3 separate regions of the Homo sapiens genome follow, and all the other regions are linked to region 1. Evidence: fine-mapped expression QTL. A gene starts in region 1. Each other region holds a variant in brackets. All regions are shown on one strand. Distances are between the middles of the regions.

Region 1 (10,123 bases):
TTTAAGTTCTTTGTAGATTCTGGATATTAGCCCTTTGTCAGATGGGTAGATTGCAAAAATTTTCTCCCATTAACAGAGCATCTTGACTCCCTGGATATTTGCACAGTCAAGCACTGATCCAGAGAGATGAGCTCGTTCAAGATTTGAACAGCAAAGATTTGCATGTGCAAGATTACAGCAGCTTAAACTGGCCATTTTGAAGTGAATGTATCGAAGGTCCAAACAAGAAAGATCGGCACCACTGAAGTTCAAACCCTGGCATCACAGTTCTGACTTGGTTGGAGTTGCTAGTAAAAATCGGACAAATTCCTTTTGGGATATTGGTGAATGATCCTCCAGTGGTTGAGAATTCTTTATTGCCACTTTTAGGTGTTCAATGAGTCAATACCAAAAAATCTTGCTTCTTCTAACACACCTAATAAATTAATGCTATCATTTACAATGAGCTGTCCACGATGCAAGTAGTTCAAAATGGGTTCAAAGTACTCAGGACTTCGGTCAATTAAGAAAGCTCGGCCGGGCGCGGTGGCTCACGCCTGTAATCCCAGCACTTTGGGAGGCCGAGGCGGGCGGATCACGAGGTCAGGAGATCGAGACCATCCCAGCTAAAACGGTGAAACCCCGTCTCTACTAAAAATACAAAAAATTAGCCGGGCGTAGTGGCGGGCGCCTGTAGTCCCAGCTACTTGGGAGGCTGAGGCAGGAGAATGGCGTGAACCCGGGAGGCGGAGCTTGCAGTGAGCCGAGATCCCGCCACTGCACTCCAGCCTGGGCGACAGAGCGAGACTCCGTCTCAAAAAAAAAAAAAAAAAAAGAAAGCTCCTCTATCATCTTGCTTACTTCCCCAGACACCTTTGTCCTTAAACATGTGGGCCAGCATACTGTCAGGTTCTTTATTCACTAAAGTGCTCCGTGTAGTTGTAAAGTACCGCCCTCCAACATTTAATGTCAGCCACTCTGTGTGGAATCCTAACAATCCTTCAGGAGGCTTAGAATCTGTCTGAGGATCAATAAATGGCTCTCCTTCACAAACAAACAAAACATCATCATCCCTGTTCAAAGCAATATCATCAATCAGTCCACCTTTCCCATTATACACACTGGTGGCTTTTATGCCGAGTTTACTGCTGGCCACAGAAAGCAAATCAGATAAAGTTCCATATACAACAACTACCTTTCCGTTCTTGGGGCTGCCGTTCAGGAACAGGGTCATCCGCCTCATCACGCTGCCCCCACTGGGTCCTGAGTGGGCCACCACCCTCCCACCTGGTCCTCCTCCCACCTTTTTCTCCTCCCGCCCTTCCCCCCCTCCACCCACTTGGATTCGCCTCCCTTCGCCACCTTTCTGCCCTTGGGGACACACCACACACATGCACTCTGTCCCACACCCAGGGCTCAGCCAGTCCTCCTTCCCACCCTGCTTCTAGGCTCCTCAGCCTGCCTGGGTTTTTCATTTATTGGCATCGATTTATTGAATGCTATTCAGGTGCAGACCACTGTTACAGGTAGTGGGGATACAGGATGAACTAGAAAAAGTCTCTACCCTCATCAAATTACATTCTAGTGGGGGAACAGAGCTTAACACTCAAATAACAAATAAAAAATACCAGACACTGATAACACTGTGTAGAGAATTAAAATAGGTAATTATAATTAATACAGTCAGCCCTCCATATCCATATATTCCACATCTGTGGATTCAACCAATCTCTTGAGTCAAAAATATTGTGGGAAAAAAATGCCACAAAGTTCTGCAAAGCAAAACTTGAATTTGCTGAGTACTAAGACAAATCCATGGGAATGAAGTATGTGTAAGCATTGTATTAAGTATTATAGAGTAATTTAGAGATGATTTAAAAGATAATGGGAGGATATATGTAGGTTAAAAGCAAATAAAAGCATTTTATATAAGGGACTTCAGCATACTTGGATTCTGGTGTTTAGGGGGTCCTCTAACCAATGCCCTGTGAATGCTGAGGGATGACTGTGCTGGCATTTTTATGTTGGGAGATCAGGAAAGGCTCAAAGGACATGAGATTTGAGTTGACATCTGAATGAAAAGACCAGTCTTGGGAAGATTAGGGAACATAGGTGAGAGAACTAATGCTAAGATGCTGAGAAGATACAACTGTGCCCAGTTTGAGGAACTGAAAAAGACCATGTGTCTGGCAAGTGCTGGGTGAGGGAGAGAGTGGTATGAGGAGACATTGCCCTTCCTTCAGGAACTTGTGGGGAAACAGCTCAGTCACCACACTGACAGCTTCTGACACCTCTCTTCTTTTGGTACAAACCACAGAGGGCTTCAAATTTACAATAGTCTACAGAGCAGAAAAAGCAGGACATTTTGTTTAAAAAGTCTCCTTTCTTCTCCTCTAGGCTACAGTTTCTTTATCTGTAATCAAAGGGATGGAATGGAAATATTAACCTCACAGAGGAAGCAGATATTAATGCATATTCCACAGAACCAGCCCATGCCAAGAAATCCAAGTTGTTCTCCAAAATCAAGGCTTACTTATCCTTCCCAAACTCGAATTTCCCAGGTCCAATTCGAAGTAGAGAGCCATTGAGCCACTTAGGAAAATGTCCCCAGACTCGAGCAGAGATGCCCCGTGGAGCCTCTTCCACTGTGGTCAGCAGCGGTGCAACACATGGCAGACCCCGACACTGCCCAAAGACGGCTTTTTTCTGAGGAGTATTTCCCATGTACCTTTTGAAAACTGTGCAGAGGAAACCAAAAGCACAAAAAATATTTTACCAAATCTTCTATAAACTTGCCTGTTTCCCACAGACAATAATCTTATCAACTGGCAGCTTGAGGGAAACATAAACCTAACACCAAATACAGGCTCCAAATTTCTTCTCTCTCCTTCCTCATTCCCAGACTATCAACGCTTTGGTTCTCCATTTTCAACCCACAACAATTCTTCTATTTTTTGTAGTACTAATCTGCCTAAGAACTAACTTAGGACTACTAATCTGCCTAAGAACTAACTTAGGACTTCAATTACTATTTTTATCATTTCTCATAGTTGAACAATACCTGTCTTTTTACAAGAATAAATCTACATGCCAACCCCAGATGTGCTAAGAGCAACCTCGTTGTTATAAAAATGACCACCATTCAATATTATCCAATTATATTGACCCCAGTAATTTAGATATACCAGAATGTGATTCCAAAGACTTCATAGCGATTCCTGTGAATTTAATAAGATCTTAAATTTAATTCCTTTTATTTTAATGGCATATACATGAAAATACAAGGCATTTTCCAGTAGAAGGGTGTCAAAAATTAAATTATGCAGTGATATCCAGTCTGAAATTACCTAAAGTGCAAAAGGCACAAGAAGTAAAAATCATAGTTGTATAATAAGGAACTGAAACTTCTCCCTATTATTTTAACATTACTGAGTGTTCACAAGGCAGTACTGCCTAACATAGAGGGGTGGTCAAATAAATAATTAAGTGCTATAAAATAGAATTCTTTATCTCATAAAAGTTTAAGAGTGATTCAGAAATCTAGGCTAGAAAAATGAGCTAACATATAGGGACACTATTACTCTGAAGAAGTGAGATTTGCATTCTTTTAGCAAGTTGTTACTATCCCATTTCTTTCAAATCTTTCAAAAATTCAGCTTGAAGCACACGAGACATTCTACTCCCCTATATGACATGTAACAAATGAGTCAAACCTAATTCTTTACTGATTTTTCAAATAAAATTCTCTTTCACCCTGAATGTCTTTCCCAATGTCCTTTTCTCTAGTTCTAAGAAAATTCCAGCGGGGCACGGTGGTTCAAGTCTGTAATCCCAGCACTTTGGGAGGCCAAGGCAGGTGGATCACCTGAGGTCAGGAGTTCGAGACCTGTCTGGCCAACATAATGAAAGCCCATCTTTACTAAAAATACAAAAAAAAAAAATAGCCGGGTGTGTTGGCCGACCCCTGTAATCCCAGCTACTCAGGAGCTGAGGCAGGAGAATCGCATTGAACCCAGGAGACAAAGGTTGCAGTGAGCCGAGATCGCAGCACTGCACTCCAGCCTGGGCAACAAGAGCGAAACTTCGTCTCAAAAAAAAAAAAAAAAGCAAATTCCATTAATTGGTCAAGGTCTATCTCCAGTGTTACAGTACTTCCCTTAAGAGGCAGCACAGTGTAATATTTAAGGGTGTGAGCTGGGGCTCTACCTGGCTCCAGACTGGTTGGTTTCAAATATGCCCTCTCCTAAATAAGAAGGCTTGAGAAAGGCACTTATCACCTCTCTGTGGTCTGTTTCCTCTTTTCTAAGATGGTGATGATGATAATTCATATTACTTCTAAGGCTATAAGTAATAAATGAGTTAGTTTATGTAAAGCTTTTAGAACAGAATACTCAAAAAATGCTATTATTATATTTACATAGCTTTTAATGATCAGTCCAATAAGGTGTAATATCTCCTTTATTTTATTCAGTTGACGAAGTACTTGGTACTGCTGAGAATAAAAAGCATTAGAATCCTGAAATAAAAGAACTGACTGCCTAGTAAACAGATCACTGACACTGTGTTTTATTTCAGCATTGTTTCTCAGAGTCTGGTATGAGGACTACTTGCAACAGAAATACCTGGTGTTACTGCTAAAATGCAGTTTCCTGGACTCCATTCTGGTCCTAATAAATCAGAATCTCTGGGGAAGGACAAGCAGGTATTCTTAAGCATACTAAAATCTGGGAACTACAGTATCAGAAGTACAAAGAGGATGCTTTGAAAAGATAGAGAAGGAAACTCTCAGGTATTTATGTTACTCTACTTTTATTAACATTATGCACCATTTATCTTATTCTCAGATTAAAATAAATTCCCTAAGGTCAGGTATGTAATTTTACTCATCTTACTTTTTTAAGTAAATTGAATGGCCTGATTGGGCATTTGTCTAAGTAGAGATACACAAATTTAAAGCATTTTACATTGTAGAAAATATTTACATGTCTATATGTTGTATACTCTATTGCATGCTACTGGTAATCTGCTACATGCTCTTCAAAGTTTCCATAGAATTTGACATTAACACTTTCTTAAACTCCTTTCTATTCGTAGCTTCTGAGACATTGTCCTATTCTAACTTTCCTGCTGCCCTATAACTACTCTCTGCATTCTGCTAGTTTTATTACTTATTAGCTGACAACCTTGGGCAAGTTACTTAATGTCTCTGAGCCTCAGGTTTTTCCATGATAAAATGGAAATAAAAGGAGGTTAATACTTCCTGTTTATGTCTGTTGTCATAATCAAATATAAAGATAGTGGATGCTTTCCAAATGTTAATTCCCTTTATGGGCTCCTTATCCCCCTTACCACTTCATGAATGTTCCTAAGGTCCTACCTTGGATCTTTAATCTCAGCACTCTCCCTTGGCAATCTCATCTAGTCTCTTAATTTCATCAATTACTTCTTGCAGGTGACTTTCAACATGTCAAAATAGAATGTTTAATTCCCCCCCCCCCGCCAATCAATTTTCTTCATCTAGGATATTTCCCAACTCCTTCAGATGAAATTTACTCACCTAACTCATCCTTCAAGATCCAGTTGCCATGTCATTTGCTTTATAAACACAGCATTCCCCTTACCTACAGCAAGAACTGATTCTCCTTAGTCTGAACTCACAGCATCTGTTTATAGCTCTCATATGGACCTTATCTTATCTGTCTTGTATGATAAATGATACTACCAGTACTCCTTGAGTACAGGGTCTGGTGTTTGTCTCCTCTCTCCTTCCAGTACGTAATACATTCCCTTGCATACTGCAAACATTAAATTACTACATTAAGTAATTTTAAAATTTATAGTGCATATTAGTATGATTTCTGAAAGCTCTAGATCAGCCAATTTCTATACATAAAATCATGTAACAATGGTAACTATAATAGAAGGCTATAAAACATAAATGAGTTTTAAGGCAGTCCCCGCAAAATGCAAATAGAGAAACCAAACAATTACATTAGAACGTGTGGCAGTGATTTTTCAATTTAGAAAAGCCTAAATATTGAATATTCTTCTTATTGCAAATCCCAAAGAATACCAAGTCCCTGAATCCTGCCTTAAATATTGCATAAAATATACAAATGTGAAGGCTGTTTCCCTGACCATGAGGAAACAATCCTAACTCAGCCTTCTTTAACTTCCAGGACTCTGCGGAATTGCTATCTCATCTGAGCCACACAGGACACAAAGCTTCAGAAGCTCCCAGCAACCTTCAGGAAAGAGGCACAGAATTCTAAGCGCAGACTGGCAAGAAGAGGAGGATGAGGAAGAGAAAGGGGCAAACCCTCTACCTGGGAGCCGGTGCACCATCACAGGAAGGAAATCCACTGCAGTGGCAGAATGACTCCTGATAAAATGGAGAAAGACTCGAAAAAACATTTTTGTATTGAGCAGATCCAGTGATTTCCAAATCCTCTCACACTGGCAGTTTTGAGTACTACTAAACAGTGAACACGCACAGAACTGCCTGGACTGTCCCTCCCTCACTGACAGGTCAAAGAGAGGACGCAGCTTAAGGGGCGGGGCTTATTTCCATGACAACCGTCCAAACACCCTAGCTATAATACGCAGCTGTTTGAAATATTAAAATTAGACCACCAATAGTGGTCTCCCCCGCCCTAAACTTTTCTTTTTCAAACCTGTTCTCACACTACAGTTAAGTCCGTTTATCCTGATGCACAGCATCAATTTTTTTATGCCACTCCTCTTCTGGAAGATTCCGACACAGAATAAAGTCCGAATTTAGACTGCCACTAGAGGACGCTACAATCTGGCAACAATTTACCTTTCATCCTTTTTCTCTGCCTTTAAATCACTTCATCCTTCCTTTTCTTTTCTATTCATTAATTTTACAGAACATTTTCTGACAATCTAGCATGAGTGAAAGTATGCCCTTAAAATGTATATGACTTTATTAACATTTTTAGCACCAATGTAGCAAATACTGTGCTACAAAGTAAGAATACCAAGAAACAAGATTGTCCCTGCTCTCCAGTTTAGACCATACACTATTCCCCTTCATGAATTATCATCCCAGCAAAGTGACTAACATACCATGATACGTTTGTTCTTCTGTGCCACTGAAGAAACTTTTCCCCTGCCTGAAATATCCCCTTTCCTTTTCAAAAATCCAATTTAAAATCTACCTCTCTGACTCCCTTACCAAAAGGTCTTCTAGTAACTCCCACAGCACTGCCACAGAGTTGCTTTTAACATTAACATATCATGTTTTCCTAGCAAAATTGTATTTCAAGAAAGAAGTGGTTAAAATTGTCAGAAGGGAGTGTCTTAATACATATAGCAGAGTACGAAGATAGTTCGGTATATATTTTGATTAGTAATCAATGAAAAATAACTTATAAATTTGTGATATTTTATTGAAATAGTAAAGAGTAACATTAGAAGTGTAAATTAAAGGGCAATAGTATTCCTGCAATAGCATTTCTCCAGTTGTGAGATAATAATAATTATTATTATTTTCTGAGACAGAGTCTCACTCTGTCACCCAGGCTGGAGTAGAGTGGCACAATCTCGGTTCACTGCAACCTCTGTGTCCCGGGTTCAAGTGATTCTCCTATCTCAGCCTCCTGAGTAGCTGGGACTACAGGTGTACGCCACCATACCCAGCTACTTTTTTTAATTTTTATTAGAGACAGGGTTTTGCCACGTTGGCCAGGCTGGTCTCGAACTCTTGACCTCAAGTGATCTGCCTGCCTCAGCCTTTCAAACTGCTGGGATTACAGGTGTGAGCCACCATGCCTGGCCAAGATAATTACTCTTGTCTACGTGGATGGTACCAAAGCCATCCAAATTTGATTTAAAAAATAAGCCTTCGACACCCAAGAATGATCAATAAAAAAATAAATAAATAAGCCTTCATGATTAGGCTTTCAGGCACCTTTATACTACAAGGTATAACAATTCTGAACAGTGCTGAACAGTAAACACATTGTGACTTAAAATCAGTTCTCCAGTCTTAATCATATCAAATGAAATGATCAAATCAATTTACTGAACCTGCAAAGGGAAGAACTAGATGTTAAACAATGGTGATACCATCAGGATATAACAAGTATATTATGAAATCTAGTCTCAAACAATCTGTTGGCCTTATTTTTCATATTAGTAATAAATGCTTAGAAAAAGAACATTTCTTAATGATGGTAGGTCGAAATCCAGATGACATGTCGTATTAACTCACAAATCTTCTTGTTGTATTTAGTTTTAAAAAATTTCCTTTTGGCCGGGCGAGTGGCTCATGCCTGTAATCTCAGCATTTTGGGAGGCTGAGGTGGGTGGGTCACCTGAGGTCAGGAGTTCGAGACCAGCCTGGCCAACATGGCAAAACCCCGTCTCTACTAAAAATACAAAAATTAGCCGGGTGTGGTGGCAGGCGCCTGTAATCCCAGCTACTCAGGAGGCCGAGGCAGGAGAATCACTTGAACCCAAGAGGCAAAGGTTGTAGTGAGCCAAGATCGCACCACTGCACTTCAGCCTAGGTAACAGAGCAAGATTCTGTCTCAAAAAAAAAAAGCAAAGGAAAGAAAGAAAAAATTGAAAAAATTTCCTTTCCTTCTTTTTTTAGAGAGAGTGTCACTCTGTCACCCAGGCTAGAGTGCAGTGATGCAATCATAGCTCACGGCAGCTTCGGATTCCTGGGCTCAAGCCATCCTCCCACTTCAGTCTCTCAAGTAGCTAGGATTAGAAATGGGAGCCACTGCAAGTGGCAAAAAAGAAAAAAATTCATTTCTAATAATTACTTTGTTGACCTCCAACCTATTCTGTGCCACCACCTCTATCAACCCAATAATTTTTTCCACTTAACCAATTTTCTTTAGCAAGTATTATTTTATTTCACTTTTGTCATCTTTTCTTATATGAGTATTTACATCATGTGGTGTTTATGCCTTAAAATAGTAATGTGATAAAATGAGATTTTATTTTAGAGTTTAGAAGGCAGCAAGGCAAATGTGCAGTCTCCCTTAGGAATAACAATTCCCTGTAGTACTATTTGCAATTTTCTGACTGCTTATATTGGAAAAATATACATGTAATAAACTGAACTGCCTATATGATTGAAAAATGGGTGCTATTTTGTTTAAAAATCTGGTTAATATAGCTATCCCATATAGTAATATATAACATAGAAAGTTTTCAGTAAAATCATAGCAGTACTTCACATTAAAGGGATAATTTTTTTAGCTAGATGAGTAGTATAGATCCTCCAGTCCAAATTCAATTTCTCAATTATAATACGATTGAAGTGACCTCCCAAAGTCATCTTGTTGTTTAAGCCAATCTATTTACTTCTGGATCACTAATCTTTATCCCATACCACACTGCTGCTAATGTTTCTAAATATAATTCATTAACTGCACATGTTGATGTGGTTGATGTGTAAAAAAGCCAACTCATACAAGGTTCTGGTGAGTAATTTCTGGTTTTTATTTTACTACTTTTACCACAAGAAAATAATTTTAAGCCGAGAGCTTTTATTAGTCATACATAATAACTAATAGTGAAAATAATCAAATGGAAATAGCACACAGTTATGTCATTATATTCTAAGAAACTGGAAAAATCACCTCTAAGGTTTTAATCTTCTTTTATAATCCTGACCATAAAAAAAATTTCAAAATTATCTCCAAAACTATCTGATATTTAAACAAAATATTCTAAAAGTATAATATTATTAAACATTATAAATTAACTGAATCCTTTTTTAGAAGTTTCAGAAACACTAAGAAGTTTAAGGAAAAAATAAAAGAATCCACATAAGATTTAAATAATTTACACTTCTATAAAATGCACTAAATATTTGACCCTCAAAAGAAAAGTGACGTAGTTCATGTTAATGGCCAGCTTAGGACATTAACATGAACATTAATATTAACATTAAGGAATTTAAAAGTTCCTTTTTAAACCTAGAAATTCAAGGAGTTTCCCCTTCTCTATTCGAGATATACATTTTCTTTAACAACTCGAGAGCTTTCAAAGCATAAATGTCATTCTTTCATTATAACAATAATAGGTTTAAATTCTCAGCTTATTTCAAGTATATATTTTATCTGTGTAATGTGTTTGCAATCACTGTAAACCTCTGTCGCAG
Region 2 (10,291 bases), 58 kb after region 1:
TATGATCGTGCCCCCACACTCCAGCCCGGGCAACAGAGTAAGACTCTGTCTCTAAAAAGAAAGAAAGAAGATTGTAGGAGAACTTTTATGCTTTAGTGGAAAATTATATTATGCATGGTCTTGAGGAGGCCCCTCTAATTATCTGACTCCAATTCTGCTGAAGCTATTTTACTATTCTTTAAGTTGTATAGAACTGATAACAATCCAAAATAATTCTTGTCTATAGACATGCAGTTCTCTCCTGTGTAGTGGAAGAGCCATTGACTTCCCTCCTTCCTTCTGAAAACCAGTTTTGCCTCCATCCCATTTATTTCAATATTTCTTCTCTATAAATGTGTCTGTTCTTCAGATTATCTTCTGAACTGGTTGCAACAGCTTCCTGATTCTCTCATAGATTAAGTGAATAGAATAAAATCTTTAACGTGTTCATTTTTACATCTGTTTGAGAATCGTGACTTTATCTTATTTTAAGAGTGGTCTTTTAATAGGATAAAAGAGAGACAGGCAATATAGGAAAATTGGATAAAATGAGGGGGAGAGGAAGAGACAAAAGGAAAAAAAGGCCATTTTCTTGTAAAGTCTGACAAAATAAATTTGTTAAAAGTCAGGTCTTCTGAAGGATTCAAGTCAATATAAATTTTCCTTTTTTCACATATTGTTGAGTTGTGGCATTAGTGTAATTGGGGAAATATACTTAAAAATAAACTTTTCTCTCAACCCAGTAAATCTCTCCACAAAGGAAGAGAAAGAAAACACACTTATTATTGAATAAGCATTAAACCAGAAAGTGATGCACATCCCAAGCAATTCACTAAAAGATTGCAAAGGCAGAAATAAATCTCACCCTTTCATACAGCCAGACAGACGCAATCCATTACACACGTGTTCTCAAGATAAACAATCATCAGTCCAAGGAAGAGGACTTGACAGCGCCATTCATAACACATCGTTCATCCTAAATTCACCTGGTAACAGGGGTGACCACCTGTGTTAGTCACTTGGTTTAATACAAAGGAAAAAGAAACTTCTGCTATCTTCTTGGCAGCAGGGAGTTTTGCCACTGGGTGCCAGGCACCTGCCGAAGCTAGGCTCCTACACTCTCACAAAAACTGCGACACAGGGAAATGATTTTCCCTGGAAGTTTACATTCAGAAGAGATGGCTCCTGGGTCCTTGAGAAAGACATTCCTGGGTTGTAAAGCTAGCAAAATTCGTATTTAAATTTTACAAGGATTTTATGTATTCTGAAGAGAACTTACACGTTTTCTAAAGTAAATACTCTAAGAAAAGGGACCAGGGCAGGTCTCATCCCTTATTTTATTTTATTTTATTTTATTTATCTATTTATTTATTTTTTATTTTTATTTTTTTTGAGATGGGGTCTCATTTTGTCGCCCAGGTTGGAGTGCAGTGGCGCCATCTGGGCTCACTACAACCTCTTCCGCCCAGGTTTAAGCAATTCTCTGCCTCAGCCTCCCGAGTAGCTGGAAGTACAGGCGCCTGCCACCACATCCAGCTAATTTTTTTTTTTTTTTTTGTATTTTTAGTAGAGACAGGGTTTCACCATCTTGGCCAGGCTGGTCTTGAACTCCTTGACTTTGTGATCCATCCCCCTCGGCTTCCCAAAGTGCTGGGATTACAGGCGTGAGCCACCATGCCTGGCATCCTTTATTTTTAACAGGAAGAATTGAGCTTCTTATTTTTGCCTTACATGTGTGAATCATTACTGAGGTTATTATAATATCCAACTGCACACACCCTCACCTCCCAACCTTTAATGCTCAGCGCCCACACACAAGTCCAGTTTCATCTCCAAAGGCATGCAGTTTCATCCCCCTTAGGCTTGCAGGCTCCTTTGTGAGTCTAAGTGTCAGAAGACGGGGAAAGAGAGGCTCAAGCTTGTTTGGCATTTGAGGCCAAAAGATGACCCCATCACCACCAGACTGGTTGTTCCTGGAAGGGTCACTGTAGGAGCTAGGGTCACAGATGTCCCAAGAAGGTCTAAGGGGCTTTCCACTTGCTGCAACAGTCTAGACTAAAGAGTTCCTTGAAAAAAAAACAAGCTCATGTCTCACCGTTAGTTCAGTCAGGGGTTCTCAAGACAACAGCTCTGTGGACATAGTTACTTTCTCAGGAGGTAAGTCTGCCCCAAGACAGCTGGGTAAGGCCAGCTTCCAGCACCAGCCATTTCACATGCCAAAAGCTGTGCCCTTCTCCTGCTGCCTTCGCCAGTGCAGGGGCCGTCAAGCTGGTTTCATCTCCAGCCATTGTGGTAATTTTATGGCAGGAAACTGGAACTCCTGGCCTTATCTGCCCCCAAGTCTAGAACTGGACCGTGCAGTTTCCTTCCAATGAAGGTGCCCTAACCTTGACGCTGAGAGTGGTAAGAGATTGGACTCTTAGAGCTTGTCCTTTCGAGAGGTTCTTGAGTCCTTTATACAAAATTTTGACCTCTTCTTTAAAGCTATGGACATTGAAGAAATTGGAAGGAAGGGAGGTACAGTTATATTCTTTCCCTAGGGCATTATAGGAAAAAAGTCACAATTCCATAGCAAAAAAAGCCAATTGAGTGATTTCCTTGAGTAATTTTTACTGTAAGTGATTTGCTGCCTCTGCTTAAAAGTCAAGAAGTAGCATCTTCTTTAAGTTCTGCCTCACCAGGCTTCCAGCTACACTTAAAATTAATTAGCTAAGAATGTAGGAAATCATCTTTCTGTGTTCTCAATGCCCAAAGTCAGCCTTGAAAGTAAAGTGTACTTCTCCTTTGCAATGACGAAAAGGAGGTATGTTTTAGAAATAGACTTTGACTAACTAGTCCTACTGACATTCTAAAGCAATCAAAATCACAATGCCCTTTTGTTTGTTTGTTTGCTTTTTGAGAGGACAGGACTGCTTCATTCCAAAACACCCATAAATTAAAATTAATTTCAAAACACCTCCAAAATAGAATAGTTTTTGCCATAGTTCTGAGTCATTTTTTAACATCTTTCTTCTTAATTGGATATTATATCCCTAATAATTCATACCTTTTTGTTTTCTGGTTTTTTTTGGGGGGGGGGTTGGTTTGGTTTGGTTTTTGGTTTTTGAGACGGAGTCTCGCTCTGTCGCCCAGGCTGGAGGGCAGTGGCGAGATCTCGGCTCACTGCAAGCTCCGCCTCCTGTGTTCATGCCATTCTCCTGCCTCAGCCTCCCTAGTAGCTGGGACTACAGGCGCATGCCATCACGCCCGGCTAATTTTTTTTTTTTTTGTATTTTTATTAGAGACGGGGTTTCACCGTGGTCTCAATCTCCTGACCTCATGATCCGCCCACCTCGGCCTCCCAAAGTGCTGGGATTACAAGCGTGAGCCACCGCGCCCTGCCAATTCATACCTTTTAAAGCATATAGAAGAGTTTGAAACAAAGTGGATTAACTACCGTGATTTTTTAAACTACAGCTATTACTACAGTACTGCCAGAGTACAATTGATTTAGCTCATCGTTGCAACTGCCCAACTGAGCAATAGGAGTGGGTTTTTCCACCCAATTTTGTGGGAAACGACCTGAAGAGAAAGTTATATTGATGTTAAGCAGCTCCACTATCCGCGTGACTAATCTTGGTTCATAAGTTTCATTGGGCCTATGACTCACTTCTCTATTTTAGATATTTATTGCCCAGGAAATAACACTGATACCATTAGAACCCGTTTCCAGTTTGAACGATGCCAAAATTACAAGTCAGCACAGGAAAAAGCTCAGCTCCTATGTGTTAATTACAACATCAATGCAAGCAAAAAAGAAAAAAGTTTGAGCTTTTGCAATCCTTCATTTATCCAGCATTTGTGACCAATGGGATGTTCTATATGTTGAGAAGGAGAAAGAGGACAGTCGACGGACCAGACCAGACTGCCCTGCTTGTCTGAGCCTTGGTGTGATCGCCAGGGGGGAATGCATATGGGGTTCAAGTTTAAGGGTCACAACCTTACATTTGTCCAGTTACCCGTATTAAAGATTAAGTGCTAGCCATGCTCTTAAGACATAGGACATAAGCCAAAATATAAATGTATTCATTTTTTATGCACACACACACACACACACACACACACAATAAAACTGTCAAATGAACAAAATTCCAGTGTCCATTAGTCAATATCCTGACTTCCCAGTTTTTTAAAAAAAGTCTCTTTAGAAACCAAGCCATTATCAGAAGTTTGCTTTGAACACATTTTATTGGCTTATGTGCCTGTCCATCAAGTCTGTGAGCTTCTGGTGTCTTTTTTTTTTTTTTTTTTTTTGAGACAGAGTCTTGCTCTGTCGCCCAAGCACGATCTTGGCTCACTGCAACCTCCACTCCCCCAGGTTCAAGCGATTCTCCTGCCTCAGCCTCCCAAGTAGCTGGGACTACAGGCATGCACCACTACGCCCGGCTAGTTTTTGTATTTTTAGTAGAGATGGAGTTTCACCATCAGCCTGTTGGCCAGGCTGGTCGCGAACTCCTGACCTCAAGTGATCCACTCACCTTGGCCTCCCAAAGTACTGGGATTACAGGCGTGAGCCACCACGCCCAGCCTCCTGGTATCTTTTTCATCTCTGTATCCCCAGGACCCAGCACAGTGCCTGGTACATAGTAGATACTTAAATATTTTTTAATATATGAGTGAGTGAATAATAAGATGTATATGAACCCATCTGCAAATTTTAAGGTGGTGTCATTAAGCTATGACAGATGAATGTACCCATCTTCACAGCAGGAGCAGTGGACTTATGAAAGCAAACACAGGAAACAGGGGAAGATGCACATGTATTAAGTCACGATTAACAGCTGGGCGCGGTGGCTCAGGCTTGTAATCCCAGCACTTTGGGAGGCTGAGGCAGGTGGATCACTTAAGCCCAGGAGTTGGGTAATGGCCGACACAGCATGGTGAAAGCCCATCTCTACAAAAAAAAAAAAAAAAAAAATTAGACGGGCATGGTGGTGTACACCTGTAGTCTCGTTACTTGGGAAGCTGAGGTGGGAGGATGGCTTGAGCCCCGGAGGTCGAGGCTGCAGTGAGCTGTGATTGTGCCACTGCATTCCAGCCTGGGCAACAGAGCAAGACCCTGTCTCAAAAGAAAAAAAAATAATTAATTTTTTTAAAATTATGTAAAAGCAAGATTAATGTTGTAATGCCAATTAATGTTTTTAGATGACATTGTGAGAGACATAAAGTACAGAAAATAAGGCTTTCAACGCATTTTAGACAACCAAAGTACATTGACGTGAAGAGGGAGAAGAAAGGAACCCTCAAAACTAAAACTTCCTACTTGTGCCACTGTGTCCACCAACTCAGAAACGTGGGCTTCTGTACCTCATGGAA[A/G]ATGGCAATGTCTCCTCTCCATGGGAGGTTCTTTTAAATTTTATTTGCATTCATATTACCTTTGAGGGTGGGAATGAGGAAAAACAAAAATATGGGTTAGTCTATGAGTGAAATTTTTCCAGAGAATATTGTCAGGATCATATTACCTTGGAAAAAGATACAATAGAGGCCCATATTGATCGTGTTTAGGTGAGATGCTGAGTGTGTTTCGGTTAAAATGTACATTGAGTTGAAGATACCCTATAGTGGTTAGACCCTGACCTGGCCAGAAGAATATTTTAATCTACTAAACTTATTAGATAAAACAAAGAAGCTAAATTAAAAAGTATTGAATTCTCCAAGATTCTAAGTCACAGGAAGTAATAAACCCATACCAAATAAGCCCCTAATTCTGCAGTAGTAGCTTTGAGGGAGAGAAACCAGCTTCGAGGGAGATGAAACCAGTTTGGGGGAAAGGGAGGAGGTGCCCTGGCCACAAATTTAGCAGGGCCACCAACATAGCTGAGTCATGGCTCAGGAGGCACCTTTAATACTATGTCAACCATCTGTCACATCCATCTTTCTTTTTTTTTTTTTTTTTGAGATGGAGTCTCTCTCTGTTGCCCAGGCTGGAGTGCACTGGTGTGATCTCAGCTCACTGCAACCTCCGCCTCCCAGGTTCAAGCAGTTCTCCTACTTCAGCTTCCCAAGTAACTGGGATTACAGGTGCCCACCACCACACCTGGCTAATTTTTTTTGTACTTTTAGTAGAAATAAGGTTTCACCATGGTGGCCAGGCTGGCTTCAAACTCCTGACCTCAAGTGATCTGCCCATCTTGGCATCCCAAAGTGCTAGGATTACAGGCATGAGCCACCACACCTGGCCCACATCCATCTTTTTAGGAAAGAATATTCAGATTAGAAACAGGAAAACTGGTGGACAACAGAAAGTGCCACTCCTTTATTCCTGACGTCTAAGATATGAATTGAACTTCCTTTTAAGTGTATGGTATTTTAAAATATTTGTGTTGATTAAAAAAAAAATGTATATATATATAAAGGTCGGGTGTGGTGGCTCACGCCTGTAATCCCAGCACTTTGGGAGGCCGAGGTGGGTGGATCACCTGAGGTCAACAGATTGAGACCATCCTGGCCAACATGGTGAAACCCCGTCTCTACTAAAAATACAAAAATTAGCTGGGTGTGGTGGCTTGTGCCTGTAATCCCAGCTACTCAGGAGGCTGAGGCAGGAGAATCACTTGAACCCAGGAGGCAGAGGTTGCAGTGAACCAAGATTGCGCCACTGCACTCCAGCCTGGCAACAGAAAGACTCCGTCTCAAAAAAACAAAAACAAAAACAAAAAAAACAGATAGTGAGATGGTTTGGCTCTGTGTCCCCACCCAAATCTCATCTTGTAGCTCCCACAATTCCTGTGCGTTGTGGGAAGGGCCCAGCGGCAGACGATTGAATTATGGGGGCAGGTCTTTCCCCTGCTGTTCTCATGATAGTGAATGGGTCTCATGAGATCTGACGCTTTAAAAAATGAGAGTTGCCCTGCACAAGCTCTTTTTGCCTGCTGCCATCCATGTGAGATGTGACTTGCCCCTCCTTGCCTTCCACTGTGATTATGAGGCCTCCCCAGCTATGTGGAGCTATAAGTCCAATAAGCCTCTTTCTTTTGTAAATTGTCCAGTCTCGGGTATGTCTTTATCAGCAGTGTGAAAATGGACTAATACAGATGGCAGTTCTGACATACACTACAATGTGATGAACCTTGGGATATTATGCTAAGTGAAAGAAGCCAGTCTAAAAAAGACAAATACTGTATGATCCCACTTATATAAGGCTTGGAATAGTCAAATGGATAAAAACATAAAGTAGAATGGTGGTTGCCAGAGACCAGAAGGAGGAGGAAATGGGGAGTTTAATGGGTACAGCATTTCAGTTTTGCAAGGTGAAAAGAGTCCTGGAGCTGGATGGTGGTAATGGTCATATGGCATTATGAATGTATTTAATACCATTGCATTGTACACTTGAAAATGGCTAAGATGGTAAATTTTATGTTATTTATATTTTAACACAATAAGATTGGAAAAACAACTTTTATTATAAAAAGTTTAAAACTTGCACAAATACTCATCATCCAGCTTCAACAATTATCGACATTTTGCTTATCTCATTTCTTCTATTTCTCCACTCCCCCCTTATTTCCCTTATAGATTTTTAGGTGTTTTTTTTTTACTTGCATGGTCTAATTATGATCATGTCATCCAAAAATCCTGCTGTATTGTTATTTTTTCCCTATATTTGTTCCTCATTTTTTTAAGAATCCAATGATTCTATGGTTAGTATCTCTGTTAAACAGAAATGAGGGAGGACAGGAAACATTCTTGCTTTATCTTAGGCTTTTTTTCCTTTTTTTGTTTTGAGACAGAGTCTCACTCTATTGGTTAGGCTGGATTGCAGTGGCACAAATCTCGGCTCACTGCAACCTCCACCTCCTGGGTTCAAGTGTTTCTCCTGCCTCAGCCTTATGAGTAGCTAGGACTGCAGATGTGCACCATCACGCCTTGATAGTTTTTGTATTTTTAGTAGAGACAGGGTTTCACCGTGTTGGCCAGGCTGGTCTCGAACTCCTGGCCTCAAGTGATCCACCCACCTCGGCCTCCCAAAGTGCTGGGATTACAGGTGTGAGCCACCGTGCCTGGCCTATTTTATCTTAGTTTCGATGAGCTTATCTTTGCTATTTAACAAATGCTGGCTCTTTGTTCTATGCATGTGCTCCTTTTAAGTTCAGACAAACAGGAACATTCAGCAAAGTTTTTCACTCAGTACTGGTGCGGGCATCAGGAGATATACATGTTGACACATATCTATTTCTGTTGGCTTTCTGGAAATCAACTGCATGACATAACCAGGACTTTTTAAAGGCTCATGATGATTTACCTAGAAATTCCTATTCAAGACTCTATCTTAAGGAAATAATCAGAGATGCAGTCAAAGATTGATGTATATCATTTTGAATAGCAATGGAGTACTCATGTTATATTTTTGACCACCCAGAGGCCATCCCCAGCCCCTTTCTCCCTTGTTAATGCAGAGACTGAGAACAGCAGACACTCGTTTCCCTAAGCCTTTACAGCAAGAGGTGGCCAAATGTGCCAGCTCTGATCAATGAACTCTAAAAAGAAGTCTGCAGGGAATGATGAAAAAGATGTTCTGACGACCAAGGCTTTTACTGCCCTACCTGCAACCCTGCTTCCTGCCTTTGAATCAATCAAAGGAGAATGTGGTACTTGAAGCCATTCCAGCTGTACTGTGACCACAAATTGACGAGCCTAAAAGTGACAGGCCAACATGCTGAGGATGAGAACAGAGAGGCAGAAAGAACTTTAGTCTGAGATGACATCCTTAACCGCTGCATCAAAACTGGACCTGCCTACCCAGACATCTTTTTCTATGAGCGATTCTGTGGTAGTACTCTTTTAATGGGAGATAGTGGGTGTGTATTCTTCTGCTTGCAGCCAAAAGGAAACCTACCTTATATGTATGAATATCCTACAATTTATTTAATTGGTCCTCTAGTTACACATTTAGCTTGATTCGATTTTCTTTTCTATCAGAAGTAACAATGTTGATGAATGTTTTTGAATATGCATCTTTGTCTTTTCGTGAGCATTTTTTTTGGTCTTTGTCTTTATCCTCTGCATCTGAGAAATTTATTTATTTATTATTTTTATTTATTTATTTATTTTGAGACGGAGTTTCACTCTGTTGCCCAGGGTGGAGTGCAATGGTGCGATCTCCACTCACTGCAAACTCCACCTCCTGGATTCAAGCGATTCTCCTGACCCAGCCTCCCAAGTAGCTGGGATTACATGTGCCCACTACCACACCCAGCTAATTTTTTGTATTTTTATTAGAGACGGGGGTTTCACCATGTTGGCCAGGCTGGTCTTGAACTCCTGACCTCGGGTGATCCGCCTGCCTCGGCCTTCCAAAATGCGGGAATTACAGGCATGAGCCACCGTGCCTGGCCTGAGAAATTTATTTACATTTGTCTTCCTTTGCTAATTTTAATTTGACAGAATTAATTTTGCTTTTTTACTCCTTATCCTGTGTTTTTCATTTCCTTTCAACCCTTCCTTTTCTTTTTCCTCTTTCATCACACCTAGTTTATCTTCCATCTTAGCCTACCTTCATCTTCTTCTGTTACAGAGCTCATGACTCACTCACTTCCACTTAAGATACCCAACAATTTCCTAGAACTTTTTCCTGGCTTCCGCAAAAAATCATTTGGACCTATGCAAAACTTCTGAACCTCTATTATACTTTTTTCTTTCACTTGTTTTATAGTTTTGTTTTGTTTTTTTAATAGGTCCCATGCTGATTTTTTTTTCTCCGTGCTCAATTTTGAACAGGGTGATAGCTATTCAGATTCAGTGTTTGTTACCAAGCAGAGTGAGTGAGGATTTCCTTTGGTTCTGCTTTCTGTCTGATAGCTGGATGGTTGAATCCTCCTTTAAAATCTGTACCTGCAGCCTTGGCAACATAGCAAGATCTACCTCTACAAAAAATACAGAAATTAGCCCAGCGTGGTGGTGTGCACCTGTAGCCCTAGCTACTTGGGAGGCTGAGCCAAGAGGATCACGGGCGCCCAGGAGTTCAAGGTTACAGTGAGCCATGATTGTGCCACTGCACTCCAGCCCAGGTGACAGAGCAAGAACCTGTGTCAATCAATCAGTCAAAACAAATAAAGTCTCTATCTGGAGGGCAGGTCATGTGCATGTGTCCCAGCCTCATTCCCAGTTTCTAGCCATTTTTCACTTGGTGTACTTCGGCTCTGCTGAAGCTGCATCTCCCTTTTGCTTCTATTTCCTGGTTTTCTGTTAGTCTCAGCTAATCTACTACATGAGGAATTGTGATTTTTTAAAAATGGAGCCCTAGTAAGATTTTCCTTGTTCTCTCCCCTAACTC
Region 3 (10,291 bases), 32 kb before region 1:
CAAACCTTCGAGGGAAAGATTTGGCTGCTGAATTATGGACCTGTTTGGGAAGAAGAAAGAGATGAAAATTGTCATTCATATGGTAACAGTATGTCCCAATAATTTAGATCCAGTCAACATCATTGGCATTCCTAAATATTTAAATAAATGATAATTTCCATTCATTCATCTACTTAATATTTGTTGAGTACCTACTATAGCCCAAGCAGTTTTAGACACTGGAGATACAGTCATGAATAAAGCAAAGTCTTTGGCCTCATATAATTTATATTCTAGTGGAGGAATGATAATAAAGAAATTTAAAAATTATAAAATATTTGTGGCCAGGTGCGGTGGCTCATTCCTGTAATCCCAGCACTTTGGGAGGCCAAGGCAGGCGGATCACCTGAGGTCTAGAGTTCAAGACCAGCCTGACCAACATGGAGAAACCCTGTCTTTACTAAAAATACAAAATTAGCCGGGCATGGTGGCTCATGCCTCTAATCCCAGCTACTCGGGAGGCTGGGGCAGGAGAATCACTTGAACCTGGAAGGTGGAAGTTGCGGTGAGCCGAGATCATGCCATTGCACTCCAGCCTGGGCAACAAGAGTGAAACTCCGTCACAAAAAAAAAAAAAAAAAAAAAAAAAAAAAGTTATTTAATTAGCATCAAATAAACAAATGATTATATAACAAAGAGTAAGAAACTAGAGAGTAACAAAGGGTGCTTTCCTTCTTCAGATTTGATCAGGTAGACCTCTGTGTGGAAAAGGATCAACTTAGTAAGCCTGGGTTGCTCAAACCCTGCACTATTTCAAGAAAGACTTGTTTTCATGACTGACCTTGGGCTGGTTGCTGGGAACTGAGCTCTTGGGATGTTCTGTCTGATAAGAGTGTTCTTGCATGTGCCAGTCCTTAAGTGACTCTGCAGTAGTTTGTCCAGATAGTTTATGCTAACAATGTGATTTATAATGAACACCTCCATTCCCTTGAGGATCTGGAACATCAGTAACTGAGGGTCATCATGTAGGGGTTTTATGCTTATATGATTCATCCCCAATAAAAACCCTGGACAAGCAGGCTTGGGTGGGTTTCTTTGGCAGACAACATTTTACACATGTTGTCACTAGTTCCTGGAGGAATTAAGCATGTCCATTGTGACTCTACTGGGAAAGGACTCTTGGAAGCATGTACCTGGTTTCCTCTAGACTTCATCTCATGTGCCTTTTCCTTTTGCTTATTTTGCTTTGTATCCTTTTACTGTAATCATGAGTCATGAGTATGACTATATAGAGTCTTTTTAAAAATTTTTAATAAAGATGGTATCTCACTATGTTGCCCAGGCTTGTCTCGAACTCCTGGGCTCAAGCAGTCCTCCTGCCTTGGGCTCCCAAAGTGCTGGAATTACAGGCGTGAGCTACCTCGCCTGACCTATTTTGAGTCTTATGAATCCTCCTAATGAATTATCAAACCTAGGGGTGATCCTGGGAACTCCCAACACAGCTTCTCCATAGAGATGATGTTTAAGCAGGAGACCCAAATAAAGTAAGTGTGTTTTTCCTGACAGTAAGTGCTTTAAGCCCATTTTCCTCTCTGAAATACTGTAGGATGGAGAACAAACTGCACCATTTCCTCCCATATACCTAGTCTATATGATCTCTGTAGCATGCAGAAATATTTTTAGTGAGTAAAGATTTAGTGCTATTCTTAAGATTCATAAAGTTATTAGCTTTTTTTTTTATAAAAGGTCACCATGGCTTCAGAAGTTACCAACTTTTTAAAAATGACTTTTAATTATATTTACAATTGTTTTCTCTTGCAAAACCATAGCTAACCCAAAAGACGCTTCAAATAATGGTAGATTACATTATATGGATCAACTACCCCATTGAAAACAACTAGAAATTATGGACAAAATGTTTAAAACAGCTGCCTGAAGGCACTGGTGAGCTAAAAAGACAGTGAAGAACAAAGGGGCCAGGTTTGGGATGAAAAGGAAACCCACAGAAACCAACTGGATACTGGGGCAAGTTTTTCCCTAACTACTTAAACATATGCTCAACATCATTAGTCATTAGGAAAATGCAAATCAAAACCACAATGAGATATCACTTCACACCCATTAGGATGGTTATTATTTTTTTAAAACCCAGAAAATAACAAATGTTGGTAAAAACGTGAAGAACTGGAACTCTTGTGCATTGCTGATGGTAGAAAAATGCTGTGGCCACCGTAGAAAAATAGTTTGGTTGTTCCTCAAAAAGTTAAACACAGAATTACATGATCTAGCAATTCCACTTCTAGATATATACCTAAAAGAACTAAAAAAAGGAATTTGGATATTTGTATGCCAATGTTCATAGCAGCATTATTCATAATACTCCAAAGATGGAAACAACCCAAGTATCCATCAACAGATGAATAAACAAATATTGTGTGTGTGTGTGTGTGTGTGTGTGTGTGTGTATACAATCGAATATTATTTAACCTTAAAAGGGAATGCAATTCTGATACATGCTACAACATAGATGAACTTTGAAAACATTATGCTAAGTGAAATAAGCCAGACACAAAAGGACAAGTATTGTATGACCCCACTTACATGAAGTACCTAAAATAGGCAAATTCATAGAAACAGAAAGTAGAATAGAGGTTACCAGGGACTGGAGGTGGGGGGAACAGGGAATTATTGTTTAATGGGTACAGAGTTTCTGTTTGAGATGATGAAAATGTTCTGGAAATGGATAGTGGTGATGTTGCACAACATTGTGAATTTACTTAATGCCACTGAATTGAACACCTAAAATGGTTAAAATGGTAAATTTAATGTTATATATATATACTTTCTACACCATAAAAAAAGAAATAATACAGAGATTTCCCATATATTCGTCATCCTTTTTTGCCAGTAGGAATGTCTTGCATAATTATAATATAATATCACAACTGGGAAATTTACATTGATACAATCCACCAACCTTATTCTAGTTTAACATGCATTCGTGTGTGTGTGTGTGTGTGTGTGTGTGCGTGTATTTAGTTCTATGCTATTTTATCATGTGTAAATTCATGTACCCACCACGCCACTCAAGATACAGAACAGATCCATCACCACAAGGATCCTTCACGCTACTTTTTGATAAGGGTATAGCCATAGCAACTCACTTACCCCTTAACCTTAAAGAGAAGGGCTTTTCAATAGTTTTGAGGGCTAGAGTGACAAAAGTTTGAATTTACGATTTTCCAAGAAGAGGAAGGCCTAGTAAACCTCTAGTCCTTTGGGTTGGGACCTCATAGGTCTGTACCCTATGAATAAGAATAAACAAGAAATAGTCCAGCTCTTGCATGGACTGAATCCTGCTTCAAATTATATAAGCAAGTGAAATTCTTCTCTAGAGGAAAATAACATCATCTTGTGTCTCAAAATATTTCCACAATTTTTAAAACACAATATTCTGCAAATGAAAGGAAATAACCAGCACATGAAAAGACAAGGCAACATGATTAAAAACCAAAATAAACAACAGATAACAGAAACAGAATCACAGAAGATCCAGATACTAGTTATCAGACTTTAACTATTCTAAATATGTTTAAGGAAATTATTTTAAACTGAGAATTGTGGTAGAGAACTATAAATTGGAAAAGAGAACCAAATCAATATTCTAGAACTGTAGATCTGCCTATAAGGAAATTTTCAAGTCTGGAAGGCTTTACTGTTGAATTATTCCAAATATTTAAGAAATAATATCAATCCTATACAATATCATCCAGAAAGAAGGAAAACAGAGAACAATTCCCAACTCATTGTATGAGACTAGAAAAACCACAAAACCAAAACCTAGTAAGAACATTATAGAAAAGAAAAAAATTAAAGGGCAATTTTATTCATGAACATAGATACAAAGAATTCTAAACAAAATAGTAACAAAGCAAATCCTGCAATATATTTAAAAGCAAATAAAATGCGACCAATTGGGATTTACTTCAGGAATGGAAGGGTAGCTTAACATTCAAAAATCAATCAATGGCTGTTATGAACATTTTTTAAAGAATCAGTCAATGTACTTCACCATGTTCACAGAATAAAGGATAAACGTTATATGATTATCTCAATAGTGCAG[A/G]AAAAAAACAGTTGATAAAGTCCAACATCCATTCATGACAAAAAATCTCAGTAAACTAGGAGTAAAAGGGAACTCTCCTAATCTAATAAAATGTATCTTTTTAAAAAGTTGTCCACACAAAACGTGCTAACAAATATTTATAACAGCTTTATTCATAATTGCCAAGAATTGGAACCAACCAAGATGTCCTTCAATAAATGAATGAATACACATTTCAGCGATAAAAAGAAATGAGTTCTCAAGCCACAAAAGACACAGAGGAACCTTAAATGCATATTGCTAAGTGAAAAAAGTCAGTCTGAAAAGTCTACATACTGTATGATTCCAACTATGTGACATTCTGGAAAAGTCAAAACTACAGAAATAGTGAAAAGATCAGTGGTTTCCAGGGGCTGAGAGGAGGAAAGGGGAAGGGACGAATGGGGGAGCACAGGGAGATTTTCAGGGCAGTGAACTATTCTGTATGATATTGGTAGATACATGACATTATGCATTTTTCAAAACCGGTAGAACTGTACAACACAGACCTAACCATCATGTAAAGTATGGACTTTAGTTAGTAATAATGTAACACTCCTACATTGATTCATCAGTTGTAACAAATGTACCATTAGCAGGAGAGGGAAATATGGAAACTCTCCATACTTTCTGCTTGATTTTTCTTTAAAAGTAAAATTGCTCTAAAAAACAGTCTATTTTTTTTTGGAAGTCCTTTATTGTAAAGGTAATTCTTTTGTCTGATGACAAACAGCAGCCACAGTGATTATTCTGGATCTCCACAATGGACAAATTCAATTTCTTCTTGAGACACAAGTTTACTTCTATATTTCTGAGGTAATGTTTTCATTACTTCTGCAGTGTCTGGTACATCCACAAATCCAGTAATTTACTTCCCTTAGAATGCTGGGAAATTGCAGAATCGTGAGATGGTTGCCCTGCTGATCTCAGAGCTTCTGGTACATTGGGTTTAGGATTGTCTCTTCCAGCAGGGAAGCTTATTAATGGAGCATGTGGCTTGACTACCTGAACGACACTGCTAGCAGATGCATCTTGCTGCCCATCATGACCCCCGAGAAGGGACAGTTTCTATTATATTTTTTTAATCTACAGCCACAGCATGCTTCATGGTAAAATGCTGCAAGCTTTGCCTCTCAGATTGGGAACAAGTTAAGGATGCCATTATCATCACTTATATTCAACACTGTACTGAAGATCCAGTGAAATAAGACAAAAAAAAAAAAGCCAATATACAGCTTACATGTAGAGTTAGAAAAGGAACTATCATTACTTGCATATGATATTATAGATGTAAAAATCTAAAAGAATCTATAATTATTAGAATTTGTAAGTGTAATTACTATATTAGTGAATATAAAATCAACAAACAAAAATCAATTGCCGGCCAGGTGCGGTGACTCATTCCTGTAATCCCAGCACTTTGGGAGGCCAAGGTGGGTGGATCACTTGAGGTCAGGAGTTCAAGACCAGCCTGGCCAACATGGTGAAACCCCATCTCTACCAAAAAAATATGAAAATTAGCCAGGAATGGTGGCACATGCCTGTAGTCCCAGCTACTCAGGAAGCTGAGGTGGGAGTATTGCTCGAACTCAGGAGGCAGAGGTTGCAGTGAGCTGAGATCACACCACTGCACTCCAGCCTTGGTGACAGAGTGAGACCGTCACACTGTCTCAAAAAAAAAAAATTGCTATATAGCAACACTAACATAAAATGAAAGCAAAAAATAAACAACATTTAAAATAATGTAAAAAAAAAACCTAGGAATAAATCTAACAAAAGATGCAGAAAATATGTAACCAGAAAACTATAAACATTGAAAGAAATTAAAGAAGTCTCAAATAAATGGAAAGATATATTGTGTTCACGTACTGGAAGACTCAACATTGTGTAAAGAGGTTAGTCCTCTCTCAAATTGATACATTGGTTCAGTGCAAATAGAATTAAAATGTGACCATATTTTTGTGTGGGGAACTGACAGCTGATTCTAAAATTTCTACAAAAACGTGAAGGGCCAGGGATGGCCATGACACTCTTTTCAAAAGAAAAATATTAGGATAACTTGACACTAAACCTTAAGACTTTTTTAATGCAGTGCACAAGTAACCATAAGTAGAAACAATGGAACAGAATATACAGTCCAGAAACAGAATAATGCATATACAGATACTTGACTTCTCTAGAAGATAACATAGGATAATATTTTCATTACCTTGCCATGAGAAGATGTCTAAAACAAGATGTACAACGTATAAGTCATAAAGGAAGAGACTGTATACTGGGCCATATTAAGTTAAGAATGTTTATTCATTAAAAGGCACTATTAGGATAATCTGATAAAGATAGCTAGAAAAATACCTATAGCAATTTTATATTTAATAATGAATTATTAAACATTTTTCAACACTACCTATTCAACTTCTATTCACTATCTTGCACTTCTATTCAACTCGAAGTCCTAGCTGGTACAGTAAGGCGAGAAAAAGAAATAAAGCCCTAAGTATTAGAAAGAAAGCTGTCATTATTTTCAGGTAACATGACTGTGCACATAGAAAATCCAAAATAATCTGTGGATCAACTATTTGAACTAATAAGTGAATTTAGCAAGATCTCTGGATATGAAGATAATATACAAAATCAATTGCATTTCTATAAAGAGCAACAAACAGAAAATGAAAGCTTAAAAGATACCATTTACAATAATTTCAAAACACACAAAAAGAAATGTAGTATCTTTATACTGAAAACTATAACTTTACTGAGAGAAATTTTAAAAGACCCAAATAAATGGAGGGATATTCCATGTTCATGGATTGGAAGACTCAATATTGTAAAGATGTCAATTGTCTCCAAATTGATCTACAGTTGCAATATTGTATCAGGTTTTTTCCTTGCAAAAACTGACAAGTTGACATCAAATTTAAAAGTTTCTGCACAGCAAAGGAAACAATCAACAAAACGAAAAGGCGACCTATGGGCTGGGGAAAAAAATTGCAACCACATATCCAATAAGGAATTATACTCAAAATTTGTATATTTTTAAATTTTTTTGTAGAGATGAGGTCTTGCCATCTTGCCCAGGCTGATCTTGAACTGCTGGGCTCAAGCAATCCTCCCACCTTGGCCTCCCAAAGTGCTGGGATTACAGGCGTGAGCCACCACACCTGGCCTCAAAATTTATAAAGAACTCTTACAACTCAATACCAGAAAAACAAATAACCCAATTAAAAAATGGGAAAAGCCGGCCGCCGCCCCGTCTGGGAAGTGAGGAGCGCCTCTGCCCGGCCGCCCACCGTCTGGGAACTGAGGAACACCTCTGCCCAGCTGCCGCCCCTGCCGCCCCAGGAGTGCCTCTGCCCAGCCGCCCACCCTCTGGCAAGTGAGGAGCGCCTCTGCCCGGCCGCTGCCCTGTCTGGGAAGTGAGGAGCGCCTCTGCCTGGCCCCCACATTGTCTGGGATGTGAGGAGCGCCTCTGCCCGGCCCCCGCCCTGTCTGGGAAGTGAGGAGGACCTCTGCCCAGCTGCCGCCCGTCTAGGATGTGAGGAGCGCCTCTGCCTGGCCGCTGCGCAACCTTCCAAGTGTGAAGTGACAGCCTTGTGTGTGATCTTTTCTGTCTTCCCCAAGTTTGCATTTTCAATATTAAAGTTTACTTTTTAATTAAAAGTTAAAAATAAATTAATTAATTAATTAATTAAAAATAAATAAAAAATGGGCAATGGACCTGAACAGTCATTTCTCCAAAAATAGAGGCCAGGTGTGGTAGCTCACACTTGTAATCCCAGCACTTTGGGAGGCTGAGGCAGGAGGATCACTTGAGCCCAGAAGTTTGAGAAAAGCCTTGGCAACATAACAAGGCCCCTGTCTCTACAAAAAAGTTTTAAAAATATTAGCTGAGTGTGGTGCCATGCACCTGTAATCCCAGCTACTTGTGAGGCTGAGGCAGGAGGATCATGCATGCCCAGGAGTTTGACAGCAGCCTTGGCAACATAATAAGACCCTGTCTCTACAAAAAAGTTTTTAAAATATTAGCTGAGTGTGGTGCCACGCACCTGTAGACCCAGCTACTTGGGAGGCTGAGGCAGGAGGATCACGTGTTCCCAGGAGTTTGAGGCTTCAGTGAGCTATGATCATGCCACTGCACCCAGCCTGGGCAACAGAGTGAGATCCTGTCCCTAAAAGAATAAAATAAAAAATAAAATAAAATTTGAAAGTCCAATAGGCATATAAAAAGGTGCTCAACATCACTAACCATAAGGGAAATACAAATTAAAACCACTATATAAAACCTCACACTCATAAGGATGGCTATTATCAAAAAGACAAGAGATAACAAATGTTGGCAAGGGTGTAGAAGAAAGGGAACTCTAGTACATTGTTGGTGGGAATATAAATTGGTACAGCCATTATGAAAAACAGTATAGGAGTTCCTAAAGAAATAAAAAATACAGATGACCCTTGAACAACACGGAGTGGGGTAGAGGTGCCAACCCCCTACATAGTCGAAAATCCACACATAACTTTTGACTACTCAAAAATTTAACTACTAATAAACTATTGTTGACTGGAAGCCTTACCAATAACATACAGTTAATTAACACATATTTTGTATTTCATATGTATTATATACTGTATTATTACAATAAAGCAAACCAGATAAAAGAAAATAAGAAAATGTTATTAAAGGCTGGGTGTGGTGGCTCAAGCCTGTAATCCCAGAACTTTGGGAGGCCAAGGTGGGCAGATCATCTGAGGTCAGGAGTTCGAGAGCAGCCTGGCCAATATGACAAAACCCCATCTCTACTAAAAATACAACGGGCATGGTGGCAGATGCCTGTAATCCCAGCTACTCGGGAGGCTGAGGCTGGAGAATTGCTTGAACTGAGGAGGCGGAGGTTGCAGTGAGACGAGATCACGCCATTGCACTCCAGTCTGGGCAACAAGAGCAAAACTCTGTCTCAAAAAAAATAAAATAAAATGCTACTAAAAGTCATAAGGAAGAGCAAATATATTTACTATTCATTAAGTGGTAGTAGATCATCATAAAGGTCTTCATTCTCATTGTCTTCACATTGAGTAGTCTGAGGGGGAGGAAGAAGAGGGGTTGGTCTTGCTATCTCAGGGGTGGAGAGGTAGAAGAAAATTTGCATATAAGGACCCATGCAGTTCGAATCCATGTTGTTCAGGGTCAACTGTACAACATATGACCCAGCAATCCCTCTCCTGGGTATATACTCAAATGAGATGAAATCACCACCTCATGAAAATAGCTGCATTCTTACGTTCATTGTAGCATTATTCATAACAGTCAAGAAACAGAAACAACCTAAATACCCATTGACAGATGAATGGATAAAGAAAATGTGATATATACACACAATGGAGTATTACTCAATCTTAGAAAAGGAGATCCTGACGTCTGCTACAACATGGATGGACCTGGAAGACATTATGTTAAGTGAAACATCCAGACACAGAAAGAAAAATATTCTATGAGGCAGGGCGCTGTGGCTCACGCCTGTAATCCCAGCACTTTGGGAGGCCAACGCAGGCAGATCACCTGAAGTCAAGAGTTAGAGACCAGCCTGGCCAACATGGTGAAACCTGGTCTCTACTAAAAATACAAAAATTAGCCAGACATGTTGGTATGTGCCTGTAGTCCCAGCTACTCGGGAGGCTGAGGTAGGAGAATCACTTGAACCCGGGAGCAGAGGTTGCAGTAAGCCGAGATCGCGCCACTGCACTCCAGCCTGAGTGGCAGAGTGAGACTCCGTCTCAAAAAAAAAAGAAAAGAAAAAAAAATTGCATGATCTCATTTTTATGTGGAATTTTTTAAAGAAAATCTCAAATACACAGAGAAAGACAATGAAACAGTGGTTACCACCAGAGGGGAGGGGAAGGCAAAGACAAGATGTAGCTCAAAGGATACCAAACAGTAGATATGTAGTATGAACAAGTCTAGAGGTCTAACGTACAAACGTAAGAAATAAAGTTAATAAGATTGTATTCTATCAGAGATTTTTGTTAAACAAGTAGATTTTAACTGCTCTTGTCACACAAAAAAGTAACATGTGAGATGATAGATATGTTAATCTGCCTCACTATACTAACCATTTTAATATTTACATGTATCCCATAACATCATGTTGTAAACCTCAAATATATACAATGAATTTT

Alleles and levels. Alleles are on the strand shown, and positions count from the first base shown. SD is a standard deviation of normalised expression in the study named. Not every link is listed here.
For the expression in gastroesophageal junction of the gene that starts at base 6,483 in region 1, allele G in region 3 goes with a lower level than allele A (small effect, 0.28 SD a copy in GTEx).

What was found.
Region 2: its variant is fine-mapped to the expression of BCO2 in whole blood (TOPMed, PIP above 0.99).
Region 3: its variant is fine-mapped to the expression of BCO2 in gastroesophageal junction (GTEx, PIP 0.97).

Annotation. Positions count from the first base shown.
Region 1 is chr11:112,171,872-112,181,994 of GRCh38, reverse strand. It overlaps BCO2 (beta-carotene oxygenase 2), which reads right to left and starts at 6,483. Exons shown (of 12, transcript NM_031938.7): 1 at 6,306-6,483; 2 at 2,513-2,717. The coding sequence starts at 6,393. It overlaps TEX12 (testis expressed 12), which reads right to left. Exons shown (of 5, transcript NM_031275.4): 5 at 9,439-10,123. The coding sequence ends at 10,079. It also overlaps the pseudogene KCTD9P4. RefSeq lists a silencer at 3,956-4,122.
Region 2 is chr11:112,113,913-112,124,203 of GRCh38, reverse strand. No RefSeq gene overlaps it. Among named protein-coding and RNA genes, the nearest start is that of SDHD, 32 kb to the right of the region's middle. The variant A/G (reference allele first, on the strand shown) is at 5,335.
Region 3 is chr11:112,203,473-112,213,763 of GRCh38, reverse strand. It overlaps BCO2 (beta-carotene oxygenase 2), which reads right to left. Exons shown (of 12, transcript NM_031938.7): 9 at 1-40. It also overlaps the pseudogene MRPS36P4. Among named protein-coding and RNA genes, the nearest start is that of PTS, 18 kb to the left of the region's middle. The variant A/G (reference allele first, on the strand shown) is at 4,103.